Regions from separate parts of the Homo sapiens genome. Here region 1 is linked to region 2. The links come from fine-mapping of genetic effects on gene expression. A gene starts in region 2. The other region holds a variant in brackets. All regions are shown on one strand. Distances are from middle to middle. Region 1 overlaps SUPT20H (SPT20 homolog, SAGA complex component). Region 2 holds the start of SUPT20H (SPT20 homolog, SAGA complex component).

What was found. PIP is the estimated chance that this variant, and not a neighbour inherited with it, causes the effect.
Region 1: its variant is fine-mapped to the expression of SUPT20H in whole blood (INTERVAL, PIP 0.97).

The regions. Positions count from the first base shown.
Region 1 is chr13:37,036,142-37,039,060 of GRCh38, reverse strand. The region is part of intron 9 of SUPT20H (SPT20 homolog, SAGA complex component); the gene reads left to right. Among named protein-coding and RNA genes, the nearest start is that of SUPT20H, 22 kb to the left of the region's middle. The variant T/C (reference allele first, on the strand shown) is at 1,229.
Region 2 is chr13:37,058,493-37,061,411 of GRCh38, reverse strand. It overlaps SUPT20H (SPT20 homolog, SAGA complex component), which reads left to right and starts at 1,724. Exons shown (of 26, transcript NM_001014286.3): 1 at 1,724-1,853. RefSeq lists a silencer at 1,553-1,812.

The DNA of each region.
Region 1 (2,919 bases), 22 kb after region 2:
GCTGCTGCAGGCTTCGTCTTCAACATAGTCTTGTCCCTTCTTAAAACAAGTTACCCATTTGTAAACTGCTGCTTTCTTTGAGGCATTCTTCTCATAAACTTTTCAAAAAGCATCAGTGATTTCACAATTCTTCCACTCAAGCTTCACCATCAATTTGATGTTTGTTCTTGCTTCAGTTTTAGCAGAATTCCTGTTGCTCTGGTAAAGGCTGTTTTCAAACTGATGTCTTATCCTTCTTAGTGTTTCAAACTAGGTTCTGTTCAGACATGTTATAACAGCTTAGTACATGTTTATTTTGGTGCAAAAAGTTTTGAAACCTATGTATAGTTTTTTCTTAATACTCATTTTTCATAAACTTTTTAAAGACCCCTTGTATATGAGATGTCCACTCACAAAAGTGTTCAGTTGCCTGACTATAGTGAGGAATAATTACTAAGTCAAAAGAAAATATCAGTAATGGTAGTTATCCTTTCTGTGACATGTGATTATAAACTAAGCTTCAGTTCATCAGTAACTACCAAGTATTGTGTTTTGGTTTGGGCTATAATGTTGTCATCTACAAAAAGATTAAAAGCTATTAAAAGAATATTAGAAAACAGAAAAACTCATTGGTTACCATCAGAGTTTGCTAGGGCATCAGATTCTTACTCTGAAGATTGATAAAGGAGAGAATATAATATTTATCCTGCCCTTCTTGTTATGAACTGTATTTTAGGCAGCCAAGTAACTGAGGGAAAATTCTTAGGAAAATTTCCAGCTAATAGGTGCAAAAGAAATGATAGACTTTTAAAAAATAAAAGTTTGAAAGTCTTAATGAAGTAGTGAATCTAGACAGCAGTATTTCTTGGATGTGAAAACCATTAGATGATAGGTTAATGGGAAATTTTATAATGTAGAAATCTGATCAAACCCACTGATTGAAGATGAGACAGTCAATTATTGTGTACCTCCTGGTTTGATGCAAGAGACAGTACACAACAGTAGTAATAGTACCAATAAAGAACTCTTGTCCAAAAAAAAAAAAAAGAGCCCATATTAAATCAAGCCACTAGTTGTAACTAGCAGTTTATAGGAATTCAGTGAATAAAATAAACTCTTAAGTGACACAATGAGGAAGAAACCAGCCAGATCTAGTTAATGGACATGAGAAAGCAACTGGTTAATTCTAACAAATTCTTATTTAGCAATATTATTAATTGATTCACTTTTTTAAAAAAAATAGCCTTAG[T/C]TATCAAGATATTTCAGAGGTTAAGCAAAATAATAGGATTCAGTAAAATATGTTATGTGATAATAGTAAAGAGCCTGTATGTTTGGAATTGGGTATATAGAGTTCACACAATATTAGCAGAGTCATTTTTATTCTTGTAATGTAGTTGAGTTGAGTATAGGATAGGACTGTTACTTCACAGTTACTGAAAAATGCCATAACCCTTTATGACCCTATAGGTTTTGTGAGAGCAGAGGGTTTTGTTTTGCTCACTACCTTATCCCCAGTTCCTGGAAAGGTGCCTAACACATCATAGGTGCTCAGATAGTTTCTTGAATTAATGAGTAGCCACTCTTACAACCTGACCATTCCGTGCTCTACAAATTATAGTCATACCTCGGAGTTACTGTGGGTTTGATTCCAGAGCACTGCCGTAAAGCAAATACTGCAATAAAGCAAGTCACATGAACTTTTTGGTTTCCTAGTCTATAAAAAGGTTACATTTACACTATATAGTTGACCTTGAACAACACAGAGGTTAGGGGCAGTGGCCCTTGTGCAGTCAAAAACCCATGTATAACTTCTGACTCCTCTAATACTTAACTACTAATACCTACTGTTGGCTGGGAAGCCTTACTGGATTTTTTTTTTTTTTTTTTGAGGCAGAGTCAGGTTGCAACTCAGGTTGCAGTGCATTGGCACAATCTCAGCTCACTGCAATCTCTGCCTCCTAGGCTCAAGTGATCCTCCCACCTCGGCCTCCTGAGTAGCTGGGACTATAGGTGCATGCCACCATGCCCAGCTAATTTTTTTTTATTTTTGGTAGAGACAGGATTTCACTGTGTTGCCCAGGCTGATCTCGAACTCCTGAGCTCAAGCGTTCTGCCCGCCTCGGACTCCCAAAGTACTGGGATTACAGATGTGAGCCACCATGCCTGGCGATTAACATGTATTTTGTATGTTATGTGTATTGTGCTCTGTATTCTTAGAATTAACTGTTAGAAAGAAAAGAAAACATTATTAAGAAAATCCTAAGAGAAAATATGTTTACTATTCAGTAAGTATATCATATTAAAGGTCTTCATCCTCATCATCTTCACATTGAGTAGGCCAAGGAGGAGGAAGAGGAAAAGTTCATCTTGCTGTCTCAGGGGTGCAAAGAGATAAAGAAGATGGAAGGGGAGGCAGAAGAGGCATGCACACTCAGTGTAACTTGTATTGAAAAAAATCTCCTAGCTGGTCGCAGTGGCTCACACCTGTAATTCCAGCACTTTGGGAGGCTGAGGCGGGTGGATCATGAGGGCAGGAGATCGAGACCATCCCGGCCAACATGGTGAAACCCCGTCTCTAAAAATACAGAAATTAGCTGGACATGGTGGCGTGCGCTTGTAGTCCCAGCTACTCAGGAAGCTGAGGCAGGAGAACTGTTTGAACCTAGGAGGTGGAGGTTGCGGTGAGCTGAGATCGCACCACTGCACTCCAACCTGGCGACAGAGCAAGACTCCGTCTCAAAGAAAAAAAAAAAACTCCAGTTTAAGTGGACCTGCATAGTTCAAATCCATGTTGTTCAGGAGTCAACTGTACTGTAGTCTATTAAGGGTGCCATAGCATTATGTTTAAAAAAAAATCTATATACATTAATTCAAAAATACTTTATTGCTAAAAAATGCTAATGATCATCTGAACCTTTAGGGAGTCATAATCTTTTTGCT
Region 2 (2,919 bases):
CTGAAGGATATTACAAAGAAAGTGAAAAGACAACCTACAGAATGGGAGAAAGTATCCACCAATGATATATCTCATAAGGGTCTAATATCCAGAATATATGACTACACATAACTAACAACAAAAACACAAACAACTCAATTTAAAAATGGGGAAATACCTGAATAGAGAGTTCTCCAAAGAAGATATACAAATGGCTAACAAGGGCATGAAAAGATGCTCAAGATAACTAGCCATTAGGGAATGCAAATCAAACCCACAATAAAATACCACTTTATACCCTTTGGGATGGTTACTATCAAAGGAATAGAAAATTATGGTGTTAGTGAGGATGTGGAGAAATTGGAATCCCCCGACAATGCTCTTGGTATGTAAAATGAATGGTTCAGCTGCTGTAGAAACATTTGTTTATGGGTTCCTCAAATATTTTCACGTAGAATTACTATAAGACCCAGAAGTTCCACTATGTTTATACCCAAAAGAATTGAAAACAGGGACTCGAACAAATACTTGTATACAAATGTTCATATCATTGCTATTCACAATAGCCCGAAAGTGGAAACAACCCAAATGTCCATCAGTGGATGGACAGGTAAAACTGTGGCATCTAGGTACAGTGGAATAGTAGCCATAAAGAGACATGAAGTACCGATACATGCAACAAGGTGTACAAGGTGAACCTGCAAAAGATTATGCTACGAAGACAGACCAAAAGGTCACACATTCCATTTATATGAAATATCCGTAATAGGTACCACAGTTTGAAAGCTGATTGGCATTTGCCAGGGGCTGAGAGAGGGAGGAATGGGAGTAACCACTTAATGTGTTCGGATTTTATTTTGGAGTGTACTTTAATACACTTATAATGTGTGCAACCACTAACTCTAATTCCAAGACACTTTCATTCATTATGACCCTTGGCATTGTGAACGGCAAATAATAAATGCTCATTAAAAAGATTCACCCCAGGCCGTGCATGATGGCTCACGCCTGTAATCCCAGCACTTTGGGAGGCCAAGGCGGGTGGATCACTTGAGATGAGGAGTTCAAGAGCAGCCTGCCCAACATAGTGAAACAGTCTCTACTAAAAATACAAAAATTAGCCGGGTGTGGTGGTGCACGCCTATAATCCCAGCTACTCCGGAGACTGAGGCAGGGAGAATCGCTTGAACCCAGGAGGCAAAGGTTGCAGTTAGCTGAGATTTCTCCACTCCACTCCAGCCTGGGCGACAGAGCGAGACTCTGTCTGAAAAACAAACGAACAAACAAAACAAAACAGACCTTACAATGTGTGCTAGTAATGCGGTTTCTGAATTTTTAGAACCCTTCTCTGGGGTGGTTTTTTTAAAAACATAAACTCATTGGCAGTTGATATACTACAGAAGGTTGTACGCATTGGACTAGTAAATGTAGGTAACGGTGTCGCTGTTTTTCCATTTGTATGTGCTAAGCAAAGAGAAAAGCTAGTTCTATGTTTCTTCCACTCTAGAAATTCAACAGGGTCGTTTTTCCCCAAATTCACATCTACACCCTCCCTCCCACTTTGCGGACTCGGACTCCAGGATTGAGCAGAGATCCTGGGCCCCGCCTCCCGCCCGGACGCAAGTCTCTGCGGGCCTCACCGGCGTCCTGCGCGGAACGCAGCGCTCCAGGCTCCTGGCAGCGGCCCCGCCCTCCCGGCTCCTCCCCTTCCGCCCGCCTTCCCCGCCCCTCGGCCCAGCCTGCCAATCGGAAGTGCGGCCGCCGGAACTGGCTGTTGGTGGGGGTGCAGCACTGAGCCGCCGACGGGGCGGGTGGGCTTTGCTGCCGAGCAGGCGGCGCCGTCTTGGGGCCTAGCGGCGAGGCGACCCGCACAGGTGGGCGGTGGCGGTAGGTGGGTGGCCAGCGACTGGCAACGCGGTGGCTTAGACGCGCGAGATCCGGCCAGGGTCAGAGGTGAGCGGGCCGCATCCCAGAGCCCGCTGGAGGAAGACGGGGTCCCCAGAGACCCGGCAGGCCGGGGCGGAGGTTGAGGCAGCTAAACTCCAGGTGGACGCCTACATCGCCTTTCGCGGTGTTGCTAAGCCGAACTTTTAATTTTAGTTTGACTTTTGGGTTCCAGAGACGGGTATTTCCGGACACTGGCAAGAATTTTGCCTTGCGTGTCTTCGAAGGCGGTTTTCTTGGTGTCCATATTGCATAAAGGCTTGTCGCTCCTCTGTGGAGATGACGGTTGTACAGGTAAAGCCTAAGTTGTGACAAAAGCTCCTGCAATGGGAAGACTCTGGTCGATCAGGGAAATCAGTAGAATTGATAGCAACGCGTAGAATTGATAGCAACGCTTAGAATTGGATTAATTACTGGCCATGGTTACCCGGCGCTCAGAAATGAACTTGGAGAACAGTTGCCCTGGAAGCCATCTCCCGTAGCCACTGCGTAGTGGGGGCCGCGTCTTCTTGAGTGCAATTCATCAAAGTCTCTAGTAGGACTCAAAATATAAAGTGACGAGCAGGATTTTCGGAGTCGAGTACAGTGTACTTGGGTTGATCACCATGTTATAAAGTTAGATCCAAATTAAGAAATACATATTCGTCTCTGAGCAGAATTGGGTCCTTTTTTTAATTGCTTTGCTTTTTTTAAAGAAATGTAAAAACAGATGCCGGTTTGATTAGTTTGCAGGTTGTAATATTGGAAGGGACCTAAGATTGGACACAGAGTTCTGAATTCTGATCTAGGTCTGTGATGTTAGGAAAGTCAGTTGTTCTGATTGCCTTATTCTGTAAAACGGAAATGATAATGATTACAGTTTCCTCACAGGTTCTAGTAAATTCTGTGTATAGACAGAATGTTTGCTTTGTGAGAGATATGAAGTTATTAGTTTTTGTCTGAAGTACTTAAATAATTTAAAGTTAGTAAGCCCCCATCCCCAATTTAGTGACAAGA